Homo sapiens: one gene and its partners. The protein of the gene in region 3 binds, or shares a complex with, the protein of the main gene of each other region. Each region holds a gene or a part of one and is shown on either strand. Other genes may lie near its edges.

The links.
Region 1: TRAPPC11 (region 3) and TRAPPC9 share a complex: the UniProt entries of both Homo sapiens proteins name them as parts of the multisubunit TRAPP (transport protein particle) complex.
Region 2: TRAPPC11 (region 3) and TRAPPC12 share a complex: the UniProt entries of both Homo sapiens proteins name them as parts of the multisubunit TRAPP (transport protein particle) complex.

What each region holds. Positions count from the first base shown.
Region 1 is NC_000008.11:140,368,710-140,379,797, reverse strand, and holds part of TRAPPC9 (trafficking protein particle complex subunit 9), read left to right. Parts: intron 1-8,617; coding exon 8,618-8,834; intron 8,835-11,088. UniProt on the Homo sapiens protein: Functions as an activator of NF-kappa-B through increased phosphorylation of the IKK complex. May function in neuronal cells differentiation. May play a role in vesicular transport from endoplasmic reticulum to Golgi.
Region 2 is NC_000002.12:3,471,905-3,482,364, reverse strand, and holds the end of TRAPPC12 (trafficking protein particle complex subunit 12), read right to left. Parts: intron 4,671-10,460; coding exon 4,570-4,670; intron 3,773-4,569; exon of another isoform or gene 3,520-3,772; coding exon 3,432-3,519; exon of another isoform or gene 3,147-3,431; coding exon 2,904-3,146; 3' UTR 2,800-2,903; downstream 1-2,799. UniProt on the Homo sapiens protein: Component of the TRAPP complex, which is involved in endoplasmic reticulum to Golgi apparatus trafficking at a very early stage.
Region 3 is NC_000004.12:183,653,893-183,665,028, forward strand, and holds the start of TRAPPC11 (trafficking protein particle complex subunit 11), read left to right. Parts: upstream 1-5,400; 5' UTR 5,401-5,555; intron 5,556-5,609; exon of another isoform or gene 5,610-6,503; intron 6,504-9,954; 5' UTR 9,955-9,975; coding exon 9,976-10,179; intron 10,180-11,136. Other genes in the region: RWDD4 (RWD domain-containing protein 4), read right to left, coding at 1,989-2,069, 5,037-5,060. UniProt on the Homo sapiens protein: Involved in endoplasmic reticulum to Golgi apparatus trafficking at a very early stage.

The DNA of each region.
Region 1 (11,088 bases), on a different chromosome or scaffold from region 3:
GTAGGAATCGGTAATTTCATCTGTAGGATAGGGGTTTTATTAAGCGTATAGATTGTCCTCTCATTTTTTGGCTTCATCCCTTTCTTAATTTTGTATGTCCCTTCAAGGCTTCAGTCTAGTTGCTGGCTTAATTTTTTTCTTTTTATGCAAATTTAATTGCAATAAATAATTCTTTTATAAGGCAAACAATATATGGGGACAAGTGATTTATCCTAGCATTTCTTTCCTGCATGTTTGCTTCACCTTAAATGTGTCATGTATACTGTGAAGATTTGGGGCTGATATTAATTCTCTTAGGGAAGGTGTAATGTGAGCCAGATGGCAGAATAGGACCTTTCCGCACTTGCCCACCTGAAGAAACACCAACCTGACAACCATCCACACACACACCTTCACAAGAGCCAGGAAACCAGGCAGGAGACCACAGCTACACCCACGGTCGCACATAAATAAGAAAAGGTGCATGGAAGAGGATGGGAAGGACAGCCTTGCACCAGCCTCCTCCGGCCCCAGGCAGCACAGCATGGAGGGAGATGACCTCCACTAGGGAAAGGAGAGCAACGTGAGTGCCAGGCCTGCCTCGGACACCAGCACCAGGCTGCCCTGGTAAAAACCAGCACCGGGCAGGCCCTGTGGCCCCAGTTACCAGGCTGGGCCATGGACTGAGCAATGTTTTTTAATGAAAAAAAAAAAAAGTCTGTTAATAGTTAAAAAGAAAGAAAAGAAAAATTTCAAATAATACTTAAGTTTGGAAAATACTTAGTGATTTTTGTTTTGACAATATAGTGGTCCAAAAACTCTCAGCACAAGTTCCTTAAAATTCTGATTAAGAGATAAAAATCCCCCCATCCCCATCCCCAACATCTTTCAAAATGCAAAGCTCATTGTTAAGAAAGGAAAAGGAAATCCTTTTCCCAAAAGCAGGAATTCTGAAAGTCAGTAGGCCTTGGAAGCCAGAGAATGCCCTGCCTAGCTGTGGTAACAGTTTTCAGTGCTCACATAGGAGGGATAGAAAATAAACCTTAGACCTGCCCAGACTTGGGAGTTGGATGGCAGACCCATGTGTAAAGCCAAGATCCCCTAAACGACACGTTTAGCAAAAGAATGAAATAGAAAATACCTCAGTCCTTAAAGTAAGAAAATAAGGAAACTTGATCTTGTTGGAAGGTGTATTAGTCAGGGTTCTCTAGAGGGACAGAACTGATAGGATATATACATATATAAAGGGGAGTTTATTAAGTATTAACTCACATGATTACAAGGTTCCACAATAGGCCGTCTGCAAGCTGAGGAGCAAGGAGAGCCAGTCCGAGTCTCAAAAATGAAGAACTTGGAGTCCAATGTTCTAGTTGGGGAAGCATCTAGCATGGGAGAAAGATGTAGGCTGGGAGGCTAGGCCAGCCTCGTCTTTTCATATTTTCTGCCTGCTTATATTCTTAGCTGCGCTGGCAGCAGATGAAGTGTGGGTCTGCCTCTCCCAGCCCACCGAGTCAAATGTTAATCTCCTTTGGCAGCACCCTCCCAGACACACCCAGGATCAATACTTTGCATCCTTCAGTCCCATCAAGTTGACGCTTAGTATTAAGCATTACAGAAGGAAACAAAACCAATCCAAAGAGGGTTTAGTTTAAAGTTGTCCTGGTATAAGAGTGACCACAAACTCCTGGCAGAAAAACATAAGTCCTTCTGGAGTGAGAAGCTACGTTCTGAATGAATCAGTGAACAGAAAACATGAAAAAGGTTCACGGAAGCTCTGGATTGAGATGTTAGACCCCAAATACACTGCCTTTGCCTCTCTCCCAAGGTCTCATTTAAGTATCCCAAAGTATTTTTTTTTTTTGAGACAGTCTTGCTCTGTCACTCATGCTGGAGTGCAGTGGCGTGATCGTGGCTCACTGCAACCTCTGCCCCCCGGGTTCAAGCGATTCACCTGCCTCAGCTTCCCAAGTAGCTGGGATTACAGGTGTGCACCACCGTGTCCATCTAATCTGACAACACATCATTAGTGTTTTGTAGTGTAGTGCGGAAGGCATTAGTCTATTTCGGACAGGCAGGAGAGGAGTTTAGGAAAGGAGTGATGGGGGGTGGGGGACGTTTTAGCTGTGTATGGTCTTGTTTAATTGGCTTTTAATTTCAGGCTGCATGAGTTGTCATTGGAGGGACTAGATTTTATGGAGAACAGACTTAAAGAAACTCAGAACTTGGCTGGGTGCAGTGGCTCATGCCTGTAATCCCAGCACTTTGGGAGGCTGAGGCGGATCACCTGAGGTCAGGAGTTTGAGACCAGCTTGGCCAACATGACGAAACCCTGTCTCTACTAAAAATACAAAAAGTAGCCGGGTGTGGCGTCGGGCACCTGTAATCACAGCTCCTGAGGAGGCTGAGGCGGGAGAATTGTTTGAACCTGGGAGGCAGAGGTTGCAGTAAGCCGAGATTACGCCACTGCGCTCCAGCCTGGGCCACAAGGGTGAAATTCTGTCTCAAAAAAAGAGAAGAAAAAAAAAAGAAACTGAGAACTCTGGTATGGAAAGATGAATGTGGAGAAAAGCTGTAGTCAGAGTTCAAATCATCTTTAAAGTACACATGAACTCGCTTGCTCACTAAACCCAAAGATGGTAAAATAGGCAGTATTTCTTGAAGCCAAAGGAGTGGGTTTTTCAGGTTATCCAAGAATGAATCAAAGGCTGGAACTGAGGTGATCAGGGGTCAAGCGCGGACTTTGCTTGGCCATCTCTTTTGGATGGTGCACTCAACAAGGGCACTGACTGTTTACAAAGTGTCCTTCCTCTAGCATGTGGTGGGTATACCTGGTAGTCTAGGAACCTTCCAGGTATCTGTCCAAGGCATAGGGCACAGCATCCCTGTTTCAGCCATCTCTCCATCCATCTTCTTCCCAACACTGTGATTTTTTTTTTTTTTTTTTTGAGATGGAGCCTCGCTCTTGTTGTGCTGAAGTGCAGTGGCGCGATCTCGGTTCACTGCTAACTTCCACCTCCCAGGTTCAAGTGATTCTCCTGCCTCAGCCTCCTGAGTAGCTGGGACTATAGGCACCCACCATCACGCCCGGCTAATTTTTATATTTTTAGTTGAGATGGGGTTTCACTATGTTGGCCAGGCTGGTCTCGAACTCCTGACCTCAGGTAATCTGCCTGCCTTAGCCTCCCAAAGTGCTGAGATTATCGGCATGAGCCACGTTGCCTGGCCTCAACACTGTGATTCTTTTTTTTTTTTTTTTTTTTTTTTTAGATGGAGTCTTGCTCTGTGCCCAGGCTAGAGTGCAGTGGCGCAATCCCGGCTCACTGCAAGTTCCGTCTCCCAAGTTCACGCCATTCTCCTGCCTCAGCCTCCCAAGTAGCTGGGACTACAGGTGCCTGCCACCACGCCTGGCTAATTTTTTGTATTTTTAGTAGAGACGGGGTTTCACTGTGTTGGCCAGGATGATCCTGATCTCCTGACCTTGTGATCTGCCCACCTCATCCTCCCAAAGTGCTAGGATTACAGGCGTGAGCCACCGCGCCCGGCCTCCAACACTGTGATTCTTTATGGACCTATCTCCTCTACTACTTCATGAAGTTTTGAGGGACCAGGTCTTATTGAAGTTTTTGTTTTGTTTTGCTTTGTTTTCATTCTTACTTTTGAATGATTAAAACTGAAAATGGATCCAATTACTTTAGACAGATGCTTTATAAAGGAAAATCCTTGGTGCATGCCTCATACCCCTACTCCGGGATATGAGAAAGTAGGTTATGTTTTTAACAAACTTTTTTGATAGACATATATGGAAAGTTTGTATAATTTTGAAGATGTATTTTCTCTCCATGTAATTATGGCTGGAAATAGCCGGAGAGAGGAGCAGAGTGTGTTTTCAAACCTGGGAATGTGTGGGGCCTGCTGTTTCCCATCCGGCATTCTCCCACGGTCATCATTTAGTTGAGTGCGGCCACCAGGCTGCCCCTACACATCTGTCACTGACTTGTTCTTCTGATCACTGCAAGTGCCCACGTTTGAGAAGGCTGATGAGGGTTAAGGCATTTTCTAGAGCATCAGTGGCTGGTTAACTTGGGGTTAGAACTTGTGGTGTCAAAGGCATTAACTAACAGTGATATTTCTGTTTCTTGAACACTCACTGAGAGTTTTAGGCTTATGCTCAGTGTTTGCATTATTTCATTGAGTCTTTTTGACAATCGTAATTAGATTTGATGATCCCTGTTTCTTAGGGATATGCAGATGTGGCCCTGGAACTCAGGACTTTACAGCTCCAGGCTGTATTCCTCCCTCTCCATCCTGCCAGAGACAAGTCCTGTGTCTGGAGTTTCCCTCTGATCTTGTCACTTTATTTCTTATTAACAGAATAAAGCAGGTCTAAACTTACTTTCTACTTGGAAATGGAATGGTGAGTTAATATTTGGATCCCTCAGAGTCTGCCTTGTGAATAAAGCTCCTTGTCTTGAGTAGTCTTGGAGCCACTTTCGTTGGAACCTCACATAAACATCTGGGCCCTGAACTTGGACTTCGTGACTGTGCAGCCTATTGAAAGATTAGAACAAAGATGTGCTGATTAATATGCCCTAAAAGAGCAGCAGGTTGGAAATGAGTTTGGGGATTTCATCTCATTTCAAGATTTCCTGAGGATCTTGGCCTAGCTTTGCCAGGGACCATTTTGTACTCCCCGGCTCCTTGTGCCATAGGTGCCTGTGTCGACCAAACATGGCTTTGTCCTGAGGCTCTCTGGGCTCATGGCTTCTCAGTCAATTGTCTGCCTAGTGCCCAAAAGCAGTTGCGCTCGAGCTTTTCCCATTAAGGAACCGTTTTAGGGCTTTAAAGTGATGTCAATTCCATTTGCAATGTAGTATTTATCATTTGACTTCTTATTACACTGAAATGATAAGAGGAATGAAGTAATATTATTACTGATCATAGTATTATTTACAACCTTTCATCTTAGATAGGTTCCATGAAAGAATCAATGGGAGTTCTAACGCATTGGTGGCCAAGGCATGTGACCTTCCCCGGCTGTCACCTTTATTTTAGATGGTGACCTCTTTACAGGCACTGGCTAAGATCAGTATTCGTCTTCTCTGCCCCCTTCTCTGCCCCAACATCTTTGATCATGTCTGGCACATAGTGGGTGCAGCTGAAGGTCTGGGCATTTCCAGATTTGTGATGAAGGCGTTAAGTACCCCCACCTCTTCTTTTTCTTTTTTTCTTTTCTTTTCTTTTTTTTTTTGACATGGAGTTTCACTCTTGTTGCCCAGGCTGGAGTGTAATGGCACAATCTTGGCTCACTGCAACCTCCGCCTCCTGGGTTCAAGCAATTCTTCTGCTTCAGCCTCTCAAGTAGCTGGGATTACAGGTATGCACCACCACGCCTGGCTAATTTTGTATTTTTTAGTAGAGACGGGGTTTCTCCATGTTGGTCAGGCTGGTCTCGAACTCCCAACCTCAGGTGATCTGCCTGCCTCGGCCTCCCAAAGTGCTGGGATTACAGGTGTGCGCCACTGCGCCCGGCCAACCCCTGCCTCCTCTTTACAGTCCTCTTCCACCCCGTCCCTGGCTGCTGTCCTCCAGCACTGGGGCTTCTGTTCGCTGCTGTACTGCACACTCCTGGAAAGGGACAGGCCATGTCCTACTCAAATTTGAATATTCACGGACCATAGACCTAGACAACAACTTCTAGATGAAAACATAGGATATCTTTGTGACCTCGGGCAAAGATTTTTCTCAGATGAGGACATAGAAGGCACTAACCATAGAAGAAAAAGCTGATAGATTGAGCTACATCACAGAGAAATGCTTTTGCTTATGAACACTCCCTTAGGGAAATAAATCGGCAACAGACCGGGAGGAAATATTTGCAAAACACATATAACTAAGGACTTGCATTCAGAATATATACAGAACTCGTACGACTCAGTAATAAAACAAACGATCTAATTTTAAAAACTGTCAGAAGATTTGAACAAGCGCTTCACAAAGGAAGATATACCAGTGGCCAGTGATCATATGAAAAAGGTTCAACATCATTAGTTTTCAGGGAAATGGAAGTTAAAGCCACCACAACGTCTAAAATAAAAAAGACTGATATCCTCATATGCTGGTGAGCAGGTGATATCCTCATATGCTGGTGAGCAGGTGATATCCTCATATGCTGGTGAGCAGGTGGAGCAACAGGGATTCTCACACATCGTCGGCGTCGGCATGACCTTTCACTGTAGGAAAAGTGGGGCTGGCAGAGATCCGATATGTAGGTAAATTGTGTGGGAGACACAGAGAAAGGACATTATGGAGTCCAGCATGGTTAGGAGAATTTAGGGAAAGAAGCAGCAGCTTCCCGCTGAAGGGCATGAGGACCAGCTTCTTGGAGAGGGTGGCATTGGAACCGAGTGTCCAAAGGGAGAGCCAGATGTGGCTGTGGAGGCATTGCAGGAGCAGAGAGCCTGTGTGCCCCGGCGGCGTCACCTAGTACAGCCTGCCTCATACGCTTCCACCCATGATTCTATGTCAAAGAGTATTTCATTGGACTTAGAGCAGCTATTTTGTTTATTTTTTCATTGATTTATTGTCATCCTCCCCACTGATTCTAAGCCAGGGGACTAGCCTGTCATTAGCATGGAGGCCCCCAGGGGTAGGAGTCTTAGCTTGTTTTGCTCACTGCTGTATCCTCTGCCACAAGAGTGGCTGGCACCAGAGTAGGGGTTCAGTAAATATGTGTTGACAGAATGAGAAAACAAATGAGTTAAAGTTGTTCAGTCTGGTGAGGTCATAGGTAGGCAGTGGGGCCTCGAATTTCCAGAGCAGGTTGGGGCTGAGGAGGGCCTGGCATGCCCGTGAAGGCATTTGGGCTCCATTTTACAGTCCTGAAGGGGTCTAGTGGTTTCAAGATGGGGATTGTCTTAGTCCGGTGAGGCTGCTGTCACAAAATGCCACAGACTGGGTGGCTGATAAACAATAGAAATGTATTGTGCACAGTTCTAGAGGCTAGAAGTCCATGATCCAGGTGCCAGCATGTTTGGTGTCTGGGGAGGGCCCACTTGCTTGTTCATAGACCGCCGTCTTTTCTCTGTGTTCTCACATGGTGCAACAGGTGAGCTAGCTCTTTAGGGTCTCTTCTTATAAGGGCACTAATTCCATTTGTGAGTGCTTCACCCCCTGACCCAATCACTTTTTAAAGTCCCCACCTCCTAATTCCATCACCTTGGGGGCTAGGCTTTCAACATGTGAATTTTGGGGAGGCACAAACATTCAAACCGTGGCTCGGGTGATGGGCTCTGAGCCATGTCTCAGGAACCTAAGTCTGGCAGGGGTGTGTGGACAGGTGAAGGAAGGTCGAGAGGTGGTAGGAAGACAATGCCGATTCCTCTTCCAGATGAGGGCTGACGAGGGCCCCATCGAGGCCATGGCAGTGAGCGCGGAGGAGAGGGGATGGAGGGAGGGTTTGGAGGCCCAAGTTGGAAGGGCGTTCAAGCTAAGGCTCTGTACTCACAGAAACATCAGGGAAACATTCATCGTCCAGGGCAGAGGAGGGAGAGAAGCGCTTCCTTAACAGTGCTCCTGGAGCAGCAGAGTGGGCTCTGCCTTCCTTCTTCTCTGAAGGCGCTGTGCAGTGGGCAGGGCCCAGGCCCAGAGTCAGGTCTTGTCCCTGATACTTCTTGGCTGTGTGATTTTGCACAGGTGATTAATGTGTCCCTGAGCTGTTAATGTCCTTATTTGCCAGCTCACAGGATGCTTGTATTGAGTAAATCAGGTACGTTAAGTCTGCTGCCATACAGTAGGTGCTGAAGAAACAGAAGTTGTTGGCTGGGCGTGGTGGCTCACACCTGTAATCCCAGCACTTTGGGAGACTGAGGCAGGCAGATCACCTGAGGTCAGGAGTTCGAGACCAGCCTGGTTAACATGGTGAAATCCCGTCTCTACTGAAAGTACAAAAATTAGCCAGCATGGGGGTGGGTGCTTGTAATCTCAGCTACACTGGAGGATGAGGCAGGAGAATCTCTTGAACCCGGGAGGTGGAGGTTGCAGTGAGCCAAGATCGTACCACTGCACTCCAGCCTGAGTGACAGAGTGAGACTCCGTCTCAAAAAAAAAAGAAAAGAAACAGAAGTTATGATTGCTACACTACAGGGTTGTTGGGAGGATTCAGTTGGGTCTTGGATGAAAGAAAACTTTTGTAAACCCTGAAGTCTTAAGTCTGATATCAGTGGTATTGTTAATAATTCATTACCCAGTTACATGATTCTGTGTCTTCTTGTGTTTTAAGAATTTTTGTGTTTGATGAGAGACCTTGATAAAATCCTGTTGTGTAGATGAACTCTTGTTCCTTTTCTTTTCTTTTGTGAAGGAACTTAAAGTAGAGGTCTCAGATTTGTAGCAGGTACCTTTGTAGCAGAGAATCTGGGCTTTATCAGCAGGAAGATGGGCTGCACCTGCAGCTGTGGCTGGGGAAGGTCTGAAGCCACCTGGGGCCTGCGCCATGCGCTGCTCACCAGGCTTTCCCTCTCCTTGATTCTCCTCGATTCTCCTCAGGTCTTTGTTTTATGAAGAGACATTTTTAATGTGTGCTTCTTTTTTCACTTATACGTTTCTTTCAAAAGCTTTTTACTTTCTCTCTGTGCTTCAGCTTTCTGAGGAAGAGAAAATTCAGCGCTACAGCATCCTCTCCGAGCTCTATGAGCTGATCGGCTTCCATCGCAAGTCTGCGTTCTTCAAGCGCGTGGCCGCCATGCAGTGCGTGGCCCCAAGCATCGCGGAGCCTGGGTGGAGGGCCTGCTACAAACTCCTCCTGGAAACGCTGCCCGGCTACAGTCTGTCGCTGGATCCCAAAGATTTCAGCAGAGGTACTGGAGTCCCCTTGCTGGCGCTAAGGTGTTGCTTTCTGTCTGATGGTCACATGCTGTTTCAGCCCCTGCCCTGAGTGGCAGACATCGTGGTTGGTGCTGGTGGCTCCAGAATGACTAGATCCCTGCCCTGGAGTTGGGTGCCTGCTGTAATCCGATTATAGGAAAAAGTACTGGTGCTTTGCCTTGGGGCTCGGATTCTTGAATCTTTATCAGTGGGAGTCAGAAATTGCCTTTGAGTTCATTGGCATGGTGTGTCATCATCAATCAAACAGTGGAAGTACCTAATGAATTTTACTCATGAGATTTAGTTAGTTTAGCACAAATCAATGAACCCAGAATAAATATCCTTGGGTATATGTGTATACCTGAGCTATGCATTCAGCAGTAAATTCTTATTCTGAAATATTAATGCAGGGTAATATGTATTAAAAATAAAGCTATCAATCTAATAACAAATATGTACAAGGATAATGCCCAGTATTAGACAAAGTCTGATTAGAAGGAGAAAAAACATTTTTGGGGGCCAGGCACGGTGGCTCACTCCTGTAATCCCCAGCACTTTGGGAGACCAGGGTGGGCGGATCACTTGAGGTCAGGAGTTCATGACCAGCCTGGCCAACATGGTGAAACACTGTCTCTACCAAAAAACAAAAATTAGCTGGGCATGGTGGCGTGCGCTTGTAGTCCCAGCTACTCAGGAGGCTGAGGCAAGAGAATTACTTGAACCTGGGAGGTGGAGGTTGCAGTGAGCTGGGATCGTGCTACTGCACTCCAGCCTGGGCGACAGAGAAAGACCTTATCTAAAAAAAACCCAAAAAAACAAAAAAAAAAACATTTTTGAGGGGTTACTTTTAGATAGGAAACATACACTTTTTCTTTAGTTCAAGCCTAGAGCTAGTGAAGGTATAGGCTTCTAGACAGGAAAGAACTGTGATGTCATCTAGGTTAATTTCCCACCAGGGCAAAAATGGGTTCTTCGGCATCCTTTTTATTTTTATTTTTTTTCCTGAGACAGAGTTTCACTCTTGTTGCCCAGGCTGGAGTGCAATGGCATGATCTTGGCTCACTGCAGCCTCCAACTCCTGGGTTCAAGTGATTCTCCTGCCTCAGCCTCCTGAGAAGCTGGGATTACAGGCACGTGCTACCACGCCCAGCTAATTTTTGTATTTTTAGTAGAGATGGGGTTTCACCATGTTGGCCAGGCTGGTCTCAAACTCCTGACCTCAGGTGATCCGCCCACTTTGGCCTCCCAAAGTGCTGGGATTACAGGCATGAGCCACCATGCCCGGCCTCTTCAGTATCTTTTTTATGTGGTCATGTCCATCCATTTCACTGGCCTCTGCTGACTGAAGGTGCTCATGGCTTTATGATGAATCCAAAAGTTCTGCTTTTGGATAATTCTGATAGTTAGGGCTCTCCCCAACGTTGAATTAAACATTATGTTTCTCCTTACTTTCACCTGCTAGAATATCTGAAGACATCTACTGGACTTTTTTGTACATTGATTCAACAGGTAGTTCGTTATACTCCTGCCCCCATGCCATGCAGTGTGTTGGGTGAGTGATGCGATGGCAAAGGAGACAGTTTCTGCCCTCTACAGTGGAAATAAACAGGTGCCTCTCACATGTGACAGCTTCCCGGTGTTTGCACAGAGCTCTCAGGTCCTTCCAGAGCCTGCTTCTAACTTACGTGTCTGTGGTTGCTGTGACAGTCACTCCTAAGTCACACTCCCCAGACTTCTTACTGTTCAACCATCTTCCCAGGCAACACTTACATTTGATAGAACCTCAAATCCGATTCTCAGGATGCATTCTGGTTAGCTTCGAGCAGGGGTCAGCAAATGTTCTCTGTAAAGGGCCAGATAGTAAATATTTTAGGCTTTATGAGCCACACGGTCTGTGCGGAAATGACTGGACCCTGCTGTTGTGGTGTGAAAGCAGCCATGGACGGCACGCACACCATGGAACTGTGTTTACATTAGTACATGGTGGCCAGATTTGGCATGGCAGCTATACTTTGCGAAATCCCTGGCTGAGAACACTGTGATATTTGAAATCATTTATTTATTTTTATTTTTTAGAGATGAGGTCTCGCTGTGTTGCCCAGGCTGGCCTCAAACTCTTGGGCTGAAGCGATCCTCCTGCCTCATTTAAAAGGAGGGCACTGGGTTTGGAAGAGAAAACGCAGACTGAGTGAGTAATATAGCAGGAGGAGAGTCAGGCGGGCAGTGAAGGGGAGTGAAGGGAGGCTG
Region 2 (10,460 bases), on a different chromosome or scaffold from region 3:
TGGTGTACACAGCTGAGCCCCTGCAGCTCTGCTTTGCCGGGCCTCACCCTCGGTGCTGGGTGCAAGACGTGACAAGATGGCATGGGAAGCTTCCCGGGGAACGCTGGAACTGGGTGTTTGAAGGAGGACCTCATGGCGGCAGCTCCAGCCCAAGTACTGCAACTGTGGGGCCGTGCCAGGAGCAGGTGCTGCGGAGCCTGTGTGGGTCCAGGACAAGAGGTAAGGGGAGTGTGGACGGGGCTGCACTGTCCTGGGGTTGAGGGCAGGCTTCAGGGGGTGACACTGAATAGGGACTAGGAAGGTGCATGCCAGGAGGGGTCCAGGCAGAGAGAACAAGTGGGGGCACAATCCTCGAGGGGGCATAGAAGAGGCCAGCAGTGTAAGGCAGGATGGCGATGCCCATGGGCTCCAACGCCTGCTGTGTAACTGGAATTCTGTCTGTGGCCTCCGGCGTCTGACATGCGTTCTCACACCTGCAGGAGCACCAGAAGCTCCTGGAGGGCGGTGCAGACGACACTGTCGGGCCGGCCCAGCCCAGGCCCCAGCAGTTGACTCCTCTGTGATCAGAGGATGTGGCTGAGGATGTGCATTTCCGTCAAGTTCCCAGGAGAACCTGGTGCTGCTGCTTCGGGGACCCCACTTTGAGGACCACTGATCTAACACTGCCCCTCGTGGCAAACGCGGAATGACTCAAGATTCAGCTGGATGGATCATTCAGGGAGCAAATCCACCCTTGCCGCCTGGCACACCCTGGCCATTCGGTAACGATGCCATCAGGGTTACTGGCTTCTTCATTCTCCACTGTGCATTCCAGGGTGGGCATTTCCACAGTTGTGAGCCCATCATCAACTCAGCGAGTTCCCATTTTCCAGTTAGAAAATAAGCTTTCTGATCGTTAGCCATTCACTTCAATTGGCTCTAGAAAAGATTTCTGGGATGTATAATTTATTTTTAACATAAAGAAAAGCTAAGTGTAAACTAGATAAGCTACAATTGTCCCAGACGTTATAGACACTCACAGCACCGTTTTCCTCTTCTAGCAAAACAAAACAAAAAATTCTGCAATCATACAGGCAGTAGGAAAAAAAAATTAGCTGGACACCATGGCTCACACCTGTAACCCCAGCACTTTGGGAGGCCGAGGTGGGAGGATCACTTGAGGCCAGGAGTTAGGGACTGGCCTGGGCAACATAGTGAGATCCCATCTTTATAAAAATAAAAAAAATCTGGGCGTGGTGGAGCACACTTGTGGTCCTAGCTACTCAGGAGGCTGAGAGTGGGGAATCGTTTGATCCCAGGAGGTTGAGGCTGGAGTGAACCATGTTTGCACCACTGCACTTCAGCCTGGATGGATGACAGAGTAAGATCCTGTCTCAAAAAAAAAAAAAAAAAAAAAAACAAAAAAACCAGGAAGAAATAATCCAGGCAAGAAACGAGGCAATGATACTGTCACCTGGCCTGGCCTCATGCCAGCAGCATGGGGGTGGGGCTTGGGAGGGAGGGTGGATTTAGGCTTACCAGCTTACTAGGGAACTTTGATCTCTGTTTCTGATTTGCCGGGCTCATGTCTAGCTGGAGCCTGGGCACTGCTGTCTGCTTTCCCGCACAACTGGCCGGGGACAGCTCTGAGCCCCGAGCCTGTAAAGGACGGGCTCCATAATCCTCTGGCAAATCCTGTAAGATGCCTGCAGTAAGGTGCCAGGTTGGAGCAGAGGAAGAGCCTTACACTTCATCCCTGAAGTCACATTTGAAGGAAGACCCTCAAGGTGGAGGGCTTCTAATTACATCTTCATCTTTCTGGGCTTAACAATAGTTTCAGTTCTCTTTTTGAAGAGAAAGATCTTGAAACCTCCTTGGTGTCCAACAGTCCTTTTGGCTGTCTCACCTCTTTTTTCTTTTCTTTTAATGCATAATTAATCTAGATGTCAGCAAATGGGCTGAGACTGTCTGGTAGATGCAGTGTTTGTATGTTTCTACTCTATTACAAAAATTAACAGAAATATGGCTTCGCTTTGTGCAAATGTTTATATCACAGTCTGTAAAATGAATTATATTTAAAACTATCCACAAAGCTAGATATTTAGAGAACCCTTGGCAGAGTTCTTTCGTAAAGTGAAGACATTTTCAGGTACTTTAAGTTCTTCAAAAGCAGGAATAACTGTGTAAACGTAAGGGCAAAAGGCCTTTCAGGCATGAGAGAACACATGAAAACACGTGTCTGGCTTCAAAACCACCCCCAGCCCCTGCCTGCCTGCGTTTTACGCGCTCTTCCTGTGCTTCATTATGCGTCGTGCTTCCTGTTCCACTCAGCTCACTCTCCACGTGGACGTATAAACTATGGGAGAAACAGTGATGGCCTCTCCTCCACCGCCAGGCTGGCAGGGGTCGTTTGGCTGGCATCAGGCTGGAGGAGACTCGGATGGGTAAGACCAACGCACTTAGTTTTGGGTGTGTGGGGAGGGCAAGAGGAGCATGAGCGGCGATCTGTGGGGGGTGTCTTCCCTGTTGTAAATCTCCCTGTACGTGCAGGTGCACGGCGAGAGGGTCTCCACACCTCCCAGCTTTTCTCTGAGGATGTCCAGAAGGAACGAGCAAAGCAGGATTGGCCTCCAGAACAGAGGCCCCGAGGCTGACTCCAGATTTCCTGTCTACGAGCTGTGTCCTCCCAGCACGCCTGCCCCTTGCATTCATGAACAGTGACCCAGCTGCAGGGACTGCGTGGCTGAACGCCGACCAACTGCGGGGAAGTCCTGGGCTGGGCCGTGGCTTGGGACCAAGAAGACACGCAGCAGACACCAGTGAAGCAGGAGTTTTATTGAGTTCCTCCATGTCACATTAATACATTAGCTTCAAGACACAGTTTCAAAGACCCGGGTCCTTCTGACGTAGTGTGTTGGAGGCAGCTAGGCCAGCTTGAGGCACTGTGTGTTGAAGCTGTCCCCCTCCTTGCCGGCGACAGCCTCCAGCAGGGCCTGTTTCTTCTGCATGCTCCGTGAGGACTCCAGCTCGTACATGGTGGTCAGGTTGAAGAGCACGCTCTCGTGCAGGTAGTGCCTGGGGTCCTGCTGGACCATGGCCTCCAGCTGCCGCAGGGAGTCCTTGAGCTTGCCCAGGTAGAGCAGACACACGGCAGCGTTGTTGTTGGCCTAGGGAGGAGCACACGCCCAGGGTTGGCCCACACAACCAGGACAGACGCCCGCCCATTCCAGGCTGCGTGCTGGGCCGTGTTAGGGGCCTGGGGGTGGTGCAGAGCTGCTGGGCAGAGCCTAGGTGGCCCTGTTGGGTCACTTCCCCTAAGGGCCACAGCCACTGCCTGGAGCTGGTGGACTGGAGAGAGAGAGCGCAGGCCCCTGCTGAGACGTGTGTGGGTGTATGTTTCTAGCGTCTGTGAAAGGCAGAGGATGGAGGATCCTGCAGCTTGGGGATCTTACCACTGCGTTTCTTGGATCCATCCTTAAGATCTCTGTGAAGAACCTGTGGGCTTCTGCAAAGTTATTCTGCCCGAGGTGAAGGAACGCGCTGTAACACAAGCAACGGTGGCAGTTAGCGGGGAAAGCCCAGGAGCTGCTGTCCCCCAACACAACCCACAGGGGCTTTGGATCCCACAGAGACCCAGCGTATGGCCCTGTGTGGCCCGGGGTTCCTGATCTCCAGGTAGAGGCGGTGAGCTGCGTTTTGCATTCAGGCTCGCACATTAAAGCCACTCTAGTTTTTATTTATTTTTATTTTTTAGATGGAGTTTTGCTCTCGTTGCCCAGGCTGTAGTGCAGTGGCACGATCTCGGCTCACCGCAACCTCCGCCTCCTGGATTCAAGCAACTCTCCTGCCTCAGCCTCCCAAGTAGCTGGGATTACAGGCGACTGCCACCACGCCTGGCTAATTTTTTGTATTTTTAGTAGAGATGGGGTTTCACCATGTTGGCCAGGCTGGCCTCAAACTCCTGACCTCAAGTGATCTACGTGCCTCAGCTTCCCAAAGTGCTGAGATTACAGGCATGAGCCACTGCACCCGGCCAAGCCACTCTAGTTTTTGTTAATTGAGATAGAGTAACTTCACCTAAATGACTTCCTGCTAAAAGCGGACACCTGCTTTATTTACGCTTTCTGATCCTGGCTGCAGGCTTTGTCCAAGGCGTGTTTCCTCCTCACGAACGTGCACTCGCACGACGCTGTGCGTTCTACCACAGAACACCAGAGCACGGGATCCAGACACAGAACACCAGAGCACGGGATCCAGACACAGAACACCAGAGCACAGGATCCAGAACGGCCGCTACGCCAGCAATGGTGACCTTTACACACACATACGCTGAAAACGGGGGCAATACAAGCGCTTCTCTGAAGAACAAGGGGGAATAGCTCCTTAAAAATCAGCTTCTGTGACTAAAAGAACATCACTGCGATTCAAGAAAACACCTGTATACTCCTTGGGTCTCCGCTCTGAGAGACACAGGGCAAGAGGAGATACAGGGAGAAGCGCCTTCTCTAGGGAGCTTTCCAACTCAGTAAGTGGGGCTTGAACGCCTCTGGGAAATTTGAGAAAACATATATTTAGTTTTAAAATATTTACCTGTTCATCAAAACCATGATTTTACCCTGTAGTCCATCTAATTTCTGTGTTACTTTCTCAACGTCTTGAAAATACTTTTCAGCTGTTTTTATGTCTCCAATCTGCTTTGACAAAATTTAGTCAGTTTAGTTGACAAAAGAAATATTAAGTCTATACTCATATATTTAGTTCCCTAATATCATGTTAGAATATGAAGACATTTATATGTCAGGCAGAGGAAAACTTCAGTAACCATTTAATCATTTTTTAATAAAAAGGCAAAAGACATTTAAGATACAGTGGAATGTTAATGTTCTATATGTCAGAAACTAAGTTGCTAATATACACGCCTTATTTAAGAGTCTTATAGTTTAGTAATTTTTACCTTTTGGAATGAATTCTGGCAGAGCATTAGATAAAATAAAATGAATAACTAATAAGATGAAACATAAAATACTTAAAATATTGGTATAATATGAGCAGGTCCTACGTCAACTTATGAGTTACTTGTGGCTAGTAAAATGGTAGGTGCCACCACATTTGCAAATTGCAAAGTAATATTTTGACCAAATAATATAGAATTCAACTGTAAAAAACAAGCCAAACCAAACTCAAACCCACTCTTATCACGCATGTCAGGAAACCCACCGGCTGCCCGACTGAAATGCAGCCGGATGCAGCAGGCCTGTGGCAGAGGAGGCCTGGGGGGTGGAAGGCTGAGTGCCCCAGCCCTGACTCCTGAGGCCACAGCTTGGTTTTACAAAGGCAGACTTGGGTTTTCTTTCACCTCTAGAAGTGTAAGGAAGGGAATAAATGATCTAAGGCTTACAATAAGAAATAGATACAAATGAAAGAAAAGTCCTATTATGGCCCAAGCCGCGCTCACGAGGGTAAAGACAGAGTTGCTTTGTGTCCGGGGCACAGCCTGCGGGAGCCAGAATGTGACAGCGAGCTCTGTTATCATGGCAGCAGCAGAAACTTAACAGAATGCTGTCCTCTGTCTCGATGAGAAACAAGCTGAATGCGCGCGGCTCACCTCCATGAGGAGGGCTGGGGCACCCATCACTATCATACTGAGCAGCCTAGTTAACTCTTAGACTGTCCACGCCAAGCATCTGTCCAGCATTAAAACAAGCCTGCTAACTTCTCAGATGACTGGTGGGGAGATGGTTCTCCATGGGTGTCATGTTTCTGCATGTCTTCCAAGCACAGACAGTGACAAGGCTTTGTTCAAAGCATTTACACAAGGATGCCTGTTTAGAGGACAGCCTTGTAAGCTAAACTGCATCCCTCTGGGGCAAAGGGCAGGCAGGCTCGCCTCCCAGTAGCAAGGATTTGGGTGTTCTAAGTTCAGGATTCCTCTCCAGCCACACAGCCCACTGCAGGCCTCATGAGGCCCTCGGTGAAGACCCTGAGGAATCAGGGCCCCGTGGCTGGTGGGAAGAATGCCACTCTGGCTGTACTGCTGTTGCTGTGTAATAAATAGCCTTCCTCTCTAACGTAGGAATCTTACATTTTTTGCCAGCATCCATGAAAGTGGCAGCTAACTCCACAGCTTGGAAACAGGATAACATCTCAGGCCCTTCACAACTGTTGCTGTTATCCCACAAAAGAAATACCATACGAGGAGGAAGAAAAAACAGAATGAAACAAGAGAAAACACAGGCGTGCACACACACCACACACTGAATGGCATCTGTCCATCGCTGCCCGTCGTCTGCACAGTCCGAAGCCGTTTGAAGTCCACTACTATCGATTTCCCACTTGCGGACTAAAAAGAAACCGAAGGCAGCATGGGCTCCGTGACGCGGCCCTCAGCTCGAACGCCTGCATCTCCTGTCTAACAGGACCGTGTGAGACACTGAACTGAAGATGATTACAGCCCATCATCAAGACCGATCAAGATTAACGTGTGCCGGCGGCCGTGGCAAGCGCTTACAAGCACAGCTCGCCTGACCCTCGCGACAGCCTGGGATGCAGATGCTGTCGCTAGCTTCGCTTTCTAGATGAAGTCGTCGGGCTTGGAAAGATGAGACAATTTTCTGAGGTCACACAGCTAACACAGAACACTGTGGTCAACACCCAGGCTGTCCAACGCCCAGACCGTGTGCTGATCCTCCGCACTGCAAGGCCTCCTGAGGCTGGCATGGGACTTTACTCAATGTCTCAGAGGAAGATAACAGAGAAATCTTGGGATATTCTTTGCTACCCACTGACTTTCCTGATGATTAGAAAGTAACTTGACATTTTCAGAATTATTAAAATGTAATTAGGATACAAAATCCTACCGATTTCTAAAAGTTAGGAGCAACTGAAAAAATTAAACATAAAAATGCAATTAAAAGTATTCCAGAATATGTAGAAAACAAATCAGTAAAAGACACTATTAAAAAGGAAATACAGTGGCTGGGCATGGTGGCTCACACCTGTAATCTCAGCCCTTTGGGAGGCCGAGGTGGGAGGATCGCTGAATTTCAGGAGTTCAAGACCAGACCGGGCAACAAAGTGAGACCTTGTCTCCATTAAAAAAGAAAAGAAAATTAGCCAGGTGTGGCTGTAAGCACCAGGTGTGGCCGTAAGCACTGTGGTCCCCAGCTACATGAGAGGCTAAGGCAGGTGAATCTCTTGAGCCCAGGAGTTCTGCAGTGAATCATACCTGTGCCACTGCACTCCAGCCTGGCAGACAGAGCAAGATCCTGTCTCACAAAGAAAAAGACAAAAAACAGTGTATAAACTAATCCAGAAAAAGGAAGCATAAACAGAAATGTAAAAGTAGAAATAGCTACAGGCAGAACAAGGAAATGGAAATAATGGTAAGAGCACTGTCTTTTACTCTGTGCGAATCCACGAGAAAACAGGGACCAAACAGGTGGCTTTCTAGAAAACTCTCAGTTACCAAAATGGTTCCCAGAAACACAGAAAAATCCTCAGGCACACAACACTAAGGCAGATTCATAATAATAAATTAGGAAAAGCACACAGCACACCTCATGTGCTCAGCAAAGGCAATTCTTAGGTGAATACTCAAACCTTCAGGGAATAGATCATTCCACATTACTCAAGTTTTCCAGAGAGAGAGAAAGCAAGCTTCTAACTTATATGAAGACAGAAAACAGCCACCATATCCTTTTGAGATGTCACCTGTGCACACGCAAACCAGATACTAACATCACTTATAAACGCAGAAACCCGGGGAAACGCCGCCCTGGAGCTCCGACCTTAAGAGCAACACATGGTCAGTGTTTCCGTGGCAGAAACTGGAACTGTGCGCTGGGTCTGGCCCTCCCCTCCTTGGGCGCTGTCAAGGTTAATACTGAGTGTCAATTTAATTGAAGGATGCAAAGTATTGATCCTGGGTGTGTCTGTGAGGGTGTTGCCAAAGGAGATGAACACTTGAGTCAGTGGGCTGGGGGAGGCCGACCCGCCCTTAATCTGGGTAGGCACCATCTCTTCAGCTGCCATCACAGCCAGAATAAAGCAGGCAGAAGTTGGAAAGAGCAGACTTGCCGAGGTTCTGGGACTTGGACTGGCTTCCTTGCTCCTCAGCTATTGTGGGACCTCACCTTGTGATCGAGAGTCAATTCTCCTAATAAACTCCCCTTCATAGATTCATCTATTCTATGAGTCCTGTCCCTCTAGAGAGCCCCAACTAATACAGGCACTGAGGGGTGGGGGAGAGCTCCAGTTCTCAGCTCCTTCACCTGCTTCTCTGTCACAGTTTTGGGATTCCTCATCACCTTGGTGGCACGGAAGCCATTACAGATGGGCAATGGCCATTTTAAAGTGTTCTCAAGGCGGAGTGTCCTGCAGTCCATGGCTGTGAGCTGTTGACTGGAGAGGAAGGCAAGAATGATTCTTCTCTGTGGTGTGGGAGTCAGATGATTTTAAACCATCCAAAGACAGAACAGCTATGTTAACAGCCACATAGGTTGCTAGATGATATTAAATCTGTAGTCAGCTAGAAAACCCAGTTCTTTTCATATTTACCACTGATCAACTTTAGTCACAGAAGCATAGGTCTGCAATTGATACAGAAAACTCATTTCAGCTGGGCCCAGTGGCTCATGCCTGTAATCCCAGCACTTTGGGAGGCAGAGGCAGGAGGATTGCTTGAGGCCAGGAGTTTGAGACCAGCCTGGGCAACATGGCAAGACCCCCTCTCTACAAAAAACTTAGCTGGGCATGGTGGTGCATTCCTGTTCCCAGCTACTCGGGAGGCTGAGGCGGGAGGATTGCTTGAGCCCAGGAGGTCAAGGCTGCAGTGAGCTGCATTTGCGCCTCTGCACTCCAGTGTGGGTGACAGAGCGAGGCCTCGTCTCAAAAACAGACAAAAAAACCCACCAGAAAAACCCTACCCAAAAACCAACACGGAAAACTTTAGTCTAAATTTTTATGTTATAAAACATTCTTGTATTTTAAAGCTTATCAGAAAAACTGTTCCATTCCAACTGGGCAAATCCCCCCAGGCTAATGTACATAAACGAATAAAAGAAAGATGCGATCTATTTCAGAGTACCCTAGCTTCTCTTCCATGTTTTTCTTGAGTTCTCCTTCACCAGCTCCTCTTCCCGTCCCGGCGTGAGCACAGCAGAGCCGGCCCCAGGGGTGCTCTCCTTTCCCCTGACCCCCCCTCACCTGCTCTCTCTGCAGAACCCGAGGGCCTGCTGGGAACCAGGCAGGCTGTCAATGCATAAATTAGGCTGCATCCGTGCAGAAGCCTCCTCTACCAGACAAGCTTGACCTTGCCTTCCTTCTCTGTCCTTGTAGAATCCAGTGTGAGCAAGAATCCTGCTAAGTCAGTTTAAGAAAAGTCCCCGCCCTCGGTGTCTTAGCACCTGGAGATCCTACCACCCTGGCCGGCTGTCAGCAACGATCCTATCAAGTCTGCTTGGCCAGAAACCCCTTCTTGAAGCTTCCTCTGGGTGATTTTCCAACCAGGGACGCTGACCCTGACCCTGGTCCCTGGTTGTCAGTTCCCACCTGTCCTCCGTGAAGTCAGAGTTGAGTCCAGTCTCTCCCCTGCTGCATGCTAGTGCCATGAATCGTTTTTAATTTAGCAGCTGTAAGAGTTCTTCATATATTCTGGATGTAAGTCTCTTATCAGATACGGGATTTGCAAGCAATGTCTCCCATGCCATAGGTTGTCTTTTTACTTTTTCTTTATGGTGTCCTTTAAAGCACAACAGTTTTTAGTTTTGGTGAAATCCCACTTACCTACATTTTCTTTTTGCTTGCACTTCGGTGTCACATCAGCATGATGAGGCCTCACAGGGTGGCAGGGGCTGGAGGACGCTCTCCCCACTCTTTCCCTGACTGTAGCCAGCACACTCCACGGCTCAGGCTGGCAGCCAGAAGTCAGTCTCTTCTTTTTCTATTTGAAGGTCTCTGTTGAGCTATGGCTGATGTACAGGAACCTGCATGTCTTCAGATCGTACAACCTGAGGGATGCTGGTACGTGGCTGTGTGCGTAAAACCACCCTCCTCGTCGAGACGGTCAAGGTGCCCGCACCCCTCCTGGAGCCTGGGGTCGTGCCCCTCTGTAAAACGTGCTCAAGTCTTTCCCAGCTTCACAGCGCTTCCCTGGCCCTTCCTTCCCTTCTTCCACCTCAGCGTCTCCCCACCCTGCCCTGGGTTCCTGCTCTCTGGGAACTCGGTCAGAGGTGACCTTGGTTCTTGCTGAGGTCCTCTCAGCCATAGCGGTGAGTGGTCCTGCATCCCGTCCCCCTTCGTCCTGCCTGGGGTGGCTGGTTTATCCCAACTTCCCACCACTCCTGCAGTGGCTGAGGCTTTCTCCTGCCTGATCACCTTGGGCTCTGACCTTTGGTCCAGGACACCGAGGCCTAGGACTGGCCACAGACACTGCAGAACCACCCTGCGCTCAGCTGCCCCAATGCCAAGCACAGGCCCCTCGT
Region 3 (11,136 bases):
ACAAAACTGCAATATGAATAATAGTTCAAAAGTAACAAAACAAAGTATGAAGAAATGGGGAACGGCTAATTCTGATTCAAAGTCAGAGCAGAGACAGGAGACATGGCCCAAATATTAATGTATCACAGAGAAGGCCTGAGTTAGGCCTTAAAGGAGAGGCAGGGGAATAATGGACCTGAGGTGAGAGAAAGATCAAACAATGTGTGCAAAAGCATAGTACTAGAAAAAAATACACGGGGGGAAATGTCACAACCCATTATGTCTAAGGCATGTGAGTGGAGGGGAAAGTTTGGAGACAGAAACAAACAGAAGGATTTGGAGTGTCAAGTGAAAAAATTTCGTCCTCATTTTATAGGCAAGAGGAACCCAGAGAAAAACATTTTTAAAGAAGAGAATGGGATGACAACTTAAATGCTTCAGAGTGCCAACTAGTACTGTTGGAGGACTCATGGTGGAGTATAAGGGGGAAGCTAAAGAAAGTATTAAACCGGGGAAGTCAACTAGGAGGCTACCAGACTATTCCGTGCAAGAACTGAGGGGTGTGACTCAGGCCACAGGAAGAACTTTACCCCTGGCCCTTTGACTATCAACACACTGTCTCCTAATCTCATGTATCATTCTTCTTAAATCCATCCTATGGGTCACGTCAGTGTCCATCTTATAGTACATATAAATGTCCTAGGGCATTCTGCACAACATGCTCTAAATCACTGCCATTGTGAATGAGATATTTAGGAGAGTATAGGGAAATTCTCGACCTCCCATTTGCTAAGGAGAGAGTAGCAACTGGATTCAAACCGAAGGGCCTAGGACTTAGCTCCACTGTTAACTTTGGACATTTGAGGTCCATGGTTATTACATACTTGGAGATGGTGTAAGGACTGTTAAGCTTGAAAGGGAATTGAGAACAGAAACTTATTTTCTGTGATGGTCATCCATCGATCATGCATAAGAATCATTTCTAATAGTTTAAACTGTGACAATGTTAATAATAACTGTAAATCTTTTACAAAAAAAACTTCCCCATTCCGCTACTTATAATTATTTGTGTGTTTTTTTTGTTTTTTTTTTTGAGTCCCGCTCTGTCGCCCAGACTGGAGTGCAGTGGCACAATCTCTGCTCACTGGAACCTCCGCCTCCTGGGTTCAAGTGATTCTCCTGCCTCAGCCTCCCAAGTAGCTGGGACTACAGGCATGCACCATCATGCGTGGCTAATTTTTGTATTTTTAGTAGAGACAGGGTTTCACCTTGTTGGCCAGGCTGGTCTAGAACTCCAGACTTGAGGTGATCCGCCTGCCTCGGCCTCTCAAAGTTCTGGGATTAAAGGTGTGAGCCACTGTGCCCCGCCTACTTATAATCATTTGAATAAAAGGTTTATATGACTTATTTACAAAATAAAATACTGTTACTATTTTTTTTTTGAGACAGAGTCTCGCTCTGTCGCAGTGGCTTGATCTCGGCTCACTGCAAGCTCTGCCTCCCGGGTTCACGCCATTCTCCTGCCTCAGCCTCCCGAGTAGCTGGGACTACAGGCGCCCGCCACCATGCCCGGCTAATTTTTTGTATTTTTAGTAGAGACAGTGGGGTTTCACCATGTTGGCCAGGATGGTCTCGATCTCCTGACCTCGTGATCCGCCCACCTTGGCCTCCCAAAGTGCTGGGATTACAGGTGAGAGCCACCGCGCCCAGCCCTACTGTTACTATTTTATGTTAAAGATAAGATTAAATAATTTTTAAGGTTTTTTCCATTTCTAGTATCTTATGATTCTGGTACAATAAAAACAAGTTTATCTTGGTTTTTTAAGCTTCTGAATTAAGTTTTCAAACGTTAAAAATGACTGATGTTAGGGTGATGTTTCCATTTAAATGCTACAGAAAATACAGACATAATAAATTTAAACAAGTTTAAAAAACAAAATAAGCATTTTTAGCCACTTTCAGTCTTTTCTAGAAAAGTTCTAAGTGCTCTTATTCATGCCATGTCTTACCCTATATTGAAAAGAAACTGGACTTAATTCCCGGAAACTTTCATCTCCTTCATAAATAGAGCGTAATGCTTCTAGTTCCATCTGAAATAAAGAACTGAATGAGTTTTGTTTAGTGGTATAAATGAATTAGAAATAGAGGGTCTTTACTTTCTCATTCAAGCCCACTCAACTATGTAAAAGCTTGACTAACTTATATAACCTTAGATACTTACCACATAGGTGCATGCAGCAACACATGACAATATTACTACCAATGATACTTACTTTCAAACTCTGTGTCAGGGACTACTAAGCACTGTACAATGTATGATCGCGCTGACTTCTCAAATCAACCCTGTCAAGAGGCTCCTATTATTTTCTCCTTCCTAGGGAAGCAAGGAAGTCTCCCTGTAAAGCCACTCCAGAGCAAGCGCTCTTAGAACTTGGCTAAAGACGAACCTGGGTGCAAAGAGCATTAAACCTAAAGATAAGAACTATGAAAAACAATACTTTCCCATTATTTACATACATTTCTTTTATATGTAATCCTTCCCACAGTGATACAAAGCTCTAAAAAACACCTAAGGGCAAGAAAAAGAACTTAAGAAAAAGGCTGACAAGTATCTACCCAAGATGAGACAGGACTGTCAGAGAAAATGTAACTAGTAATCCTTGCTTGGACATAGTTCTTAGAACATTTTGGTATTACAACTGAGAAGTTCATCACTGTGATCACCGATGAATACCTGAGAAAAGAAGTAAAGCAAGACTGCACTTGGGTACACGTTTAAGTTTTTCAAAAAGATGCATGTCATGAATTCTACAAACTAAAGATGGTGAAAGTGGGCTTGATCTACAGTCAAAATTTTAGAATAGAAATTATTGGCTGGGCGCGGTGGCTCACATCTGTAATCCCAGCACTTTGGGAGGCCGAGGCGGGCGGATCACCTGAGGTCAGGAGTTCGAGGTCAGCCTGGCCAACACGGTGAAACCCCATCTCTACTAAAGACACAAAAATTAGCCAGGTGTGGTGATGGGCGCCTGTAGTCCCAGCTACTCAGGAGGCTGAGGCAAGAGAATCGCTTGAACCCAGGAGGCGGAGGTTGCAGTGAGCCGAGATCGGGCCACTGCAATCCAGCCTGGGCTACAGAGCGAGGCTCCGTCTCAAAAATAGCAACAACAACAGCAAAAAGACATTGTTGAAGAAACAGTGTGTGAGGAACTGGGACATTAAGGAGTAGACCCTAAGACCTAGTAAGTATATGAAAAACAAGATATACCCTTCTTAGATAGGGAAACTTGATTGGCACAATGAAGAAAGGCATAAAACACCGACTATATAGATTTCAGCCAGGCTCCACAGGTTTCTCTTGCTACCTTTACAGAAAAAACAAAAAAAAACAAAATACAGAAATTCAAGCCGGATTCAAGAATAACTAAGATTAGATTGGAACAAAAACCTTACTCAAGATATAGTACTACTCCTTCTGTCCCTAATCCTTTCCCATATTTTAATTTATGACTTGGACAGGTACAAAAATAGGAGGCAAGTTTATTAAATTTGTGGATGACAATTTGTTGGGACAGTGAATAATGCTGATGGCTGAATAAGAATCCAAAAAGTCTTTGAAAAGCAAGCTAATGATGAAATTTAGCAGGGTAAGTAGAACTTGTATCAATACTCAGATACCTAAATGTAGAAGTTGAAGATGAAAGACAAATTGCTTTGTATAAAGCACTTAAAAGATTTCAGTTGACAGTAAATTTAACTAGACAAAACAGCAAGATGCCACAATTTTGAAACAGGACATTTAAAAAATTAAAATCTGTCCACAAACACGTGATTCCAGGATAGTGAAGAGATTAACAAAGAATGGATATATGAAGACAAGCTAAAAGGAACCACTTCCTCAGAGAAGGTCTGAGAAACTGGGCAGGAAACTATCTTCAAAGATCAGAACATCGGTCATCTGAAAGAAGAATGAAATTTTCTTGTTAAACTGGAGATTCCTGGGCCCACCACAGAAATTCTGATTCAGTAGGTCTGGGGTGGAGTGCACGCATCTGTTTTCTAGCAACCATCTAAATGGTTCTAAGGTAGGGGACTATGGTCCAACTCTGAGAAACATTACACTGTATGTTCTTTGCTTTGCAGGGAGAAGAAGCTATTAACGCATTCACTTAGAAATTCACCCGGCAAGAATATTTTAGAAGAGATTCAGATATCAACTAGCTAGCTTGTTGGACTTTGGGTCCTTTAAAGGTTAACTTCCAATCCAGAGATTCTATTACATTTATCATGTAAAAGTAGTAAGTTTCAAGCATTATACTTTAAATTAACAGTGAACTTATCTACCACCCAATAAGACCTGGTTTCTAGTCCCGATTCTACCACGTACTTACTGTGCAGCCCTGCGGCTATCATCGACCCACCTATCAAAGTTAGAAGGTTCCCCTACAGATGGCCCGTAGCACCCACCCCCCAACTCTAATATTATATGATTCAATGTCAAAATGGCATCTCACAAGGAAATATTTGAGCATAAACCATAAATTCAGGTGGTACATGAATGCTCAAAACAGACAGATGGGTAAAAGATTTCCCCAAACAATATGGACAGAAACTCAGATGCACCACCAGTGTCATTTTCTTCCATGAGAAATGTAACTAACTCAATTAGCCCTCTACTAGCCAAGAGATTTAAAGATGACCAGACTAAAATTTAAAGGTGATCAGCCTAACTCAGTAAACAGGCACTGAACACATGGGATTCAAGGAGAGCCAAGAGCACTGGATCGTGCACCAAGGACGCTCATCCCTGTTATTAAGTAACCAGGGGAGACTCCCGGATTTGCAAAAATGAAAAATGAGGGGGGAAGAGTGGCAGAGGCGGACTCCTGGCCATTCACGCGCGCTTGGGTGGGACGCCGGTGAACTCGGGGCACCCCGGCCGGCTCCGAGGGCACAGGGCACGTGCCGGGCAGGCTGTCCGGGCACCAGGTCTCACGGGGGCCCGGGGCTGCGCGCCGCGCCCGCGCTGGGAGAGGGCCCTGAGCCGGGGGGCTCACCTCCTGGTCCTCGTTGGCACTCATCGCGCCGGTCGCGGGGCGCCTCCTGAGCGGACGGCGTTCGCAACAACGAAGAGAAAGCGAAGGCAGCGGCCCAGAGGCCGGGCGTCCCCCTTTCGCGCCTCGGCTGTGGGGGCGGCACAGTCTTGGCACTGGCAGACGCCAACTGCGCGCGCCCCGAGCCTCGGCAGCGCCCAGCCGCCGGCAGTGGGCTGTGGGCTACGAGCCGGAGCCGCGGCTGGTGGGGCCTGGGAAGTGCAGCGTCTCCCTGACGCTTGGAGGAGCGGCGTAAAGTTCCGGGACAGCGATTGGTGTAGAGCGCGGTCACTCAGGCCCAGAAAGTGCTTCCTGTGCCGGGGGAGGTGGGTACAGGGAAGTCTCGCCTGTTGGAACTGGCTGTGGGGCTGCGGCGGTGGGGACGGGCCACGGCGTTCTGTGACATCCCCCCGCCTCCCCTCGTCTTCTCCCGGCTGGCGGCGACCGGCCTCAGCTGCAGCGGGCCCGGGGCGTGGGGCCTGGGTGAGTCCGGGCCCGGAGACCCGCGGGGCCAGGCGGGACCGCCGAGGAAGAGAGCTAGCTCTTAACAATGCTGGTTTGGGGGCCTGCGTTTTGCAATCCCATCGACGGGTGCAATCCTGGCACTTCTCTTTTAGACCCGAGGAAAGACGCACCCGTTTCTAGGGCCTCCCAGGTTTAAGACGGGGGAATAAGAGGAGGAAGATATCTGCCTTTAGGGACTGCAAGGTTATTTCTCTACCTTTCCTCACTGGAGCTACCAGAACAGATACTGGGACCATGGGGACGGTGTTTCTCCTACGTTGGATTGTTGCTTCTCATCTTTAACATCGAAACATCATTTCGTCCCCACACTGTCGTTCCTCTTTTGTTCGTTTTGTAGTTGAACATCTCTGAATCCCATTCTTAGCAGCCTTGTGTCCTAACACCCTGAACTTCCAGTTAGTTAAAAGAAAAAAAAAGTAACCACATTAGGTTTTGGGGTTTTTTTAGTTGCCAATTTGATTGGGTCACCTTTCTTATCTTTCACGCTAGTTTCCAGTTTACTTCCCTTGCATTACTTGATCTCCCATCCATTATTCACCTTCTATAGCTGCGCCTCCTTTCGTGTATAGTTTCGTTGGTTGCTCCATTGGATATCTGAAAATTTCTCCTTCCAGCCTGTCATTGAAATCCATTCGATCTGCGCCTGTGCGTTATCGGGGTTCTCATTCAAATTCCTTTGCTGCAGAATAAGCACGACCATTTCAGGTGACATAGGAGAATGTGGCAAGACTTTCTGATACAATTTTCGTGCAGCAATTTTGGGACACATTTCCCATAATTTAGATCTCTGCTGTCCAGTTCTGTAGCCAGTAGCTACATCAGGCATTTGAAATAGGCTAGTCTGAATTGAGATGTGCTGTGAGTGTGAAATACACACCAGATTTTGAAGACTCAGTACAAAAAAAGGTAAAATATGTCATTAATAACTTTTATATTATTGTCAGTATGATAATATTTTGGACATACTGTACTGCGTTAAATTGAATATTAAAATGAATTCCATCCACGTTTTACTTTTTAATATGACTGCTAGAAATTTTTAATTTATTTATGTGACTTGTATTTCTATTGGATGACAGTCATTTTTAGTTCCTCTTATTTCAACTCCATATTTAAAGACCACAGCTATGTCTTTTGGGCCTCTGGAGTTATTACAGGAAATGGCCTCTAGTCTAGACTCGTTCATATTAAGCAAAGGGGCCCGTATTGTATTTTGGTCACTTGTTTTTTGTTGTTGTTGTTGAGACGGAGTCTTGCTCTGTTGCCCAGGCTGGAGTGCAGTGGTGCGATCTCGGCTCACTGAAATCTCCGCCTCCCGGGTTCAAGCCATTCTCCTGCCTCAGCCTCCCGAGTAGCTGGGACTATAGGCACGCATCACCATGCCCGGCTAATTTTTGTATTTTTAGTAGAGACGGGGTTTCACCCTATTGGCCAGGCTGGTTTTGAACCGTTGACCTCGTGAATCGCCCGCCTTGGCCTCCCAAAGTGCTGGGATTACAGGCGTGAGCCGCTGTACCCAGCCTGGTCACCCCTTTTTAATTTTCATTCCTACATTACCCAGAACTAGACTGTTTCTTTCTCTGAACATGCAATCCTTTGCCCTCATAACTTAATCCTGTCCTAAAAATATTTAAACAATTCTAAAACAATCTGTTGTAGACATTTCTGGCAAGCTTTGCAAATCATTTATTGAATACCTGTTGTTCTTTCAGTATGTAAACATGAGAAGACTAATAGTCTTTCCTAAATTAACCTTTCAGTTGAAAATATTCCATGTTTTGGGGATTAGGTATTAGCCTAAGTGTGCCTCACTTTTCACAAAGATTGTGTTAGACTTCTCCATAATATACTGGTATACTGGTGTAGATTACCTTTTTTTTTTTTTTTTTTTTTTTTTGAGACGGAGTCTCCTCGCTCTGTCGCCCAGGCTGGAGTGCAGTGGCGCGATCTCCGCTCACTGCAAGCTCCGCCTCCCGGGTTCACGCCATTCTCCTGCCTCAGCCTCCCGAGTAGCTGGGACTACAGGCGCCCACCACCATACTCGGCTAATTTTTTGTGTTTTTAGTAGAGACGGGGTTTCACCATGTTAGCCAGGATGGTCTCGATCTCCTGACCTTGTGATCCGCCCGCCTCGGCCTCCCAAAGTGCTGGGATTACAGGCGTGAGCCACCGCGCCCGGCCAGATTACCTTTTAAAAGAGCCTCATGACACATTCTTTTTCAAATAAGATTATATTTAAAATGTAGTGATAATTTTGTTTGGAATAACTTTTTTTTTTTTTTTTTTTTTTGTGGCACAATCTTGCTCTGTCACCCAGGCTGGAGTGCAGTGGCACAATCATAGTTCACTGTAACTTTAAACACCTAGACTCAAGTGATCCTCCCATCTCAGCCTCCCAAGTGGCTGGGACTACAAGTGAGCACCACCATGCCCGGCTATTTTCTTTTTTATTTCTTTTAGAGACAGGATCTCACTATGTTTCCCAGGCCAGTCTTGAACTCCTGGCCTCAACAATCCTCTGGCCTTGTCCTCCAAAAGTGCTGGGATTATAGGCATGAGCCACTTGTGCCTTACCTGAATTCTCTGTAATATGCTGGTATAGATTATCTTTTAAAAGAACCTCATTTGGGAGGCCAAGGCTGGCAATCGCCTGAGGTCACGAGATCAAGACCATCCTGGCCAACATGGTGAAACCCTGTCCACTAAAATACAAAAAATTAGCTGGGTGTGGTGGTGCATGCCTGTAGTCCCAGCTACTAGGGAGGCTGAGGCAGGGGAATCACTTGAACCCGGGAGGTGGAGGTTGTAGTGAGCTGATATTGGGCCAGTGCACTCCAGCCTGGTGACAGAGTGATACTCCGTCTCAAAAAAAAAAAAAAAAAAGAACCTCATGTTGTTACATCCTTTTGCAAGTAAGATTATATTAAAAATATAATGACAGTCTTGTTCGGGATAAACATAGTTTTATATACTTATAAAGTCAGGGCATACGTTAGATTTATTATGGACTGATTCTTAGCTAAAGGACGCAGTGGAAACATCCTCCGAGAGGTTTCCATTCATTGTTAGTTTTTCCCTTACAGATTTTTCTTTAAAGAGTAAATTTTATATTGTGGGAAATGAGACAACATAGCTACTATTTAGATAATTACATAAATTAAAGGCTATTTTAATAATATCCTAGGTATTCAGAAATTCAATATTAGCAATTACAGAGAAATTAGGGGAAGTTTATTATATGTAAGTCAACTGTTTTTCTTTTATATTTTTCTTTCAATATATTTTTCTTTTATAGTTGAAATAGATCATGTAGATCTATTTTAATTTTATCACCTTCTTGCTTTCTTGGTCTACTAATTTCAAAGTTCTGTGTGCATTTTGAGACATTACTGAAAATGCCGATTTGTCTTAAAGTTGACTTCATTTTTAACATGAAAGATTTTTTCTTAAATGTCATATAGTTATTACATTTTAATAGATCTAATTCAGGAATTAAAGTTTTCCCTTTTTCTCTCTTCTGTTTGTTTGACAGTTTGCAGATACTCAAAGCCTTTTGCCTTTTTGTAATGATTATTTTATTTATTTTATTTTTTTTGAGACAGAGTCTCACTCTGTCACCCAGATTGGAGTGGAGTGCCGTGATCTTGGCTCACTGGAGCCTCCGCCTCCTGGGTTCAAGTGATTCTCCTGCCTCAGCCTCCAAGTAGTTGGGGTTACAGGTGTGTGCCACCATGTCCAGCTAATTTTTTGTTTTTTGTTTTTGAGACAGAGTCTCCCTCTGTCATCCAGGCTAGAGTGCAGTGGCGCCATCTTGGCTCACTGCAACCTCCACCTCCCGGGTTCACGCCATTCTCCTGCCTCAGCCTCCTGAGTAGCTGGGACTACAGGCGCCCACCACCACGCCCGGCTAATTTTTTGGATATTTAGTAGAGACAGGGTTTCACCGTGTTAGCCAGGATGGTCTCGATCTCCTGACCTCGTGATCTGCCCACCTAGGCCTCCCAAAGTGCTGGGATTACAGGCGTGAGTCACCACGACCAACCAATTTTTTGTATTTTTAGTAGAGACAAGGTTTCACTGTGTTGGCTAGGCTGGTCTTTAACTCCTGGCCTCCAGTGATCCACCTGCTTCGGCCTCCCAAAGTGTTGGGATTGTATGCGTGAGCCACCATGCCTGGCCTTGTAATGATTATTTTTTTGTAATGATTTTTAAATAGAGATTCATATATTGGAAATGAATATGAGTTGTTTTTTTTTTTTTTTTTTTGAGACAGAGTTTTGCTCTTGTTGCCCAGGCTGGAGAAATGAATATGAGTTTTTAAAAATTAATTATGAATGTATTAACATTTGTATTTCAGGTTTTTTGTGACATCGTAAACATGAGCCCCACACAGTGGGACTTCCCTGTGGAATTATGTTGCCGGCCTATGGCCTTTGTTACTCTAACGGGCCTGGATGTAGTTTATAATGCAGTCCATCGAGCTGTCTGGGACGCCTTCTGTGCAAATCGGAGAGCTGATCGAGTACCAATTTCTTTCAAGGTGCTCCCAGGTGACCATGAGTATCCCAAATGTAGACCCAAGGTAATGGCATTGTGATGGCATGTGTTCTTTCCTTCTCTCTCTCTATGTGTGTGTGTGTGTCTTTTTTGTTCTGTTGTGTGTGTGGAGTTTATCAAGACAGTGGTCACAGTGGTGCATAAAGAAAGCCTTAGGCATTTTCATGTAATACACTGCATGTATATTTAATAATAGTTCTTTTTTTTTAAACTCCAGAGGAATAATTACTTTATAAAGCTTTCTATCCTATGAGCCCAGGTTTTCCCTTTTTTGTTTTTAGGAAAAAACCCAACATAGTCCCCTCTAAAAGGAAGGTCTTGCATTCCCCACCATCATTACTAATGTCGTTTTTGAATCCCATGGTCTGTGCAATGTGGCTCAATTTCACAGATTTTTTGAGCACTTGCTTTGTGATAGGTACCTGGAACCATGCAACAAGCTAGTGATACGAATTTAAGTGAGACAGGTTCCCTATTCTTGAGGAGTTTTACATAAACTAACACAGTTTATTCATTGCGGAATGAAGAAAGGTATTAAGTTCAAAACTGACTTTTAAGGTGAACGACATAGTAAAGACGACTTTACCTTAGATAATAATTATTATCATGATGATAGTATCACTAATAGCTAACATAGTTGTAAAAAAACAGTAAAACAGTTTACTGTTTTAAGCAGTTTATGTGTAGTGATTTGTTATTTATCATAATCTTATGAGGTTGGTTTGAAAGTTAGGTGATAAAACCCTTTTAGTTCTGACCCCTATCCTTTTTTTTTCTTTTGCCCTAGAGCAGTGTCTCTGACATAGTAGTCTCTGGACCAAGTATGTCATCATAACCTGGGGTATTTATTAAAAATGTAGATTGCAGCCCTCCTCTTTGGTTTCTGGGAATATAGGACTTGGTCACCGGCTGATTATTTTTGTGTGTGTTTGAGAACCACACGACAACATTTCATATACTCAGCCCTGGAAACTGAGCTCTC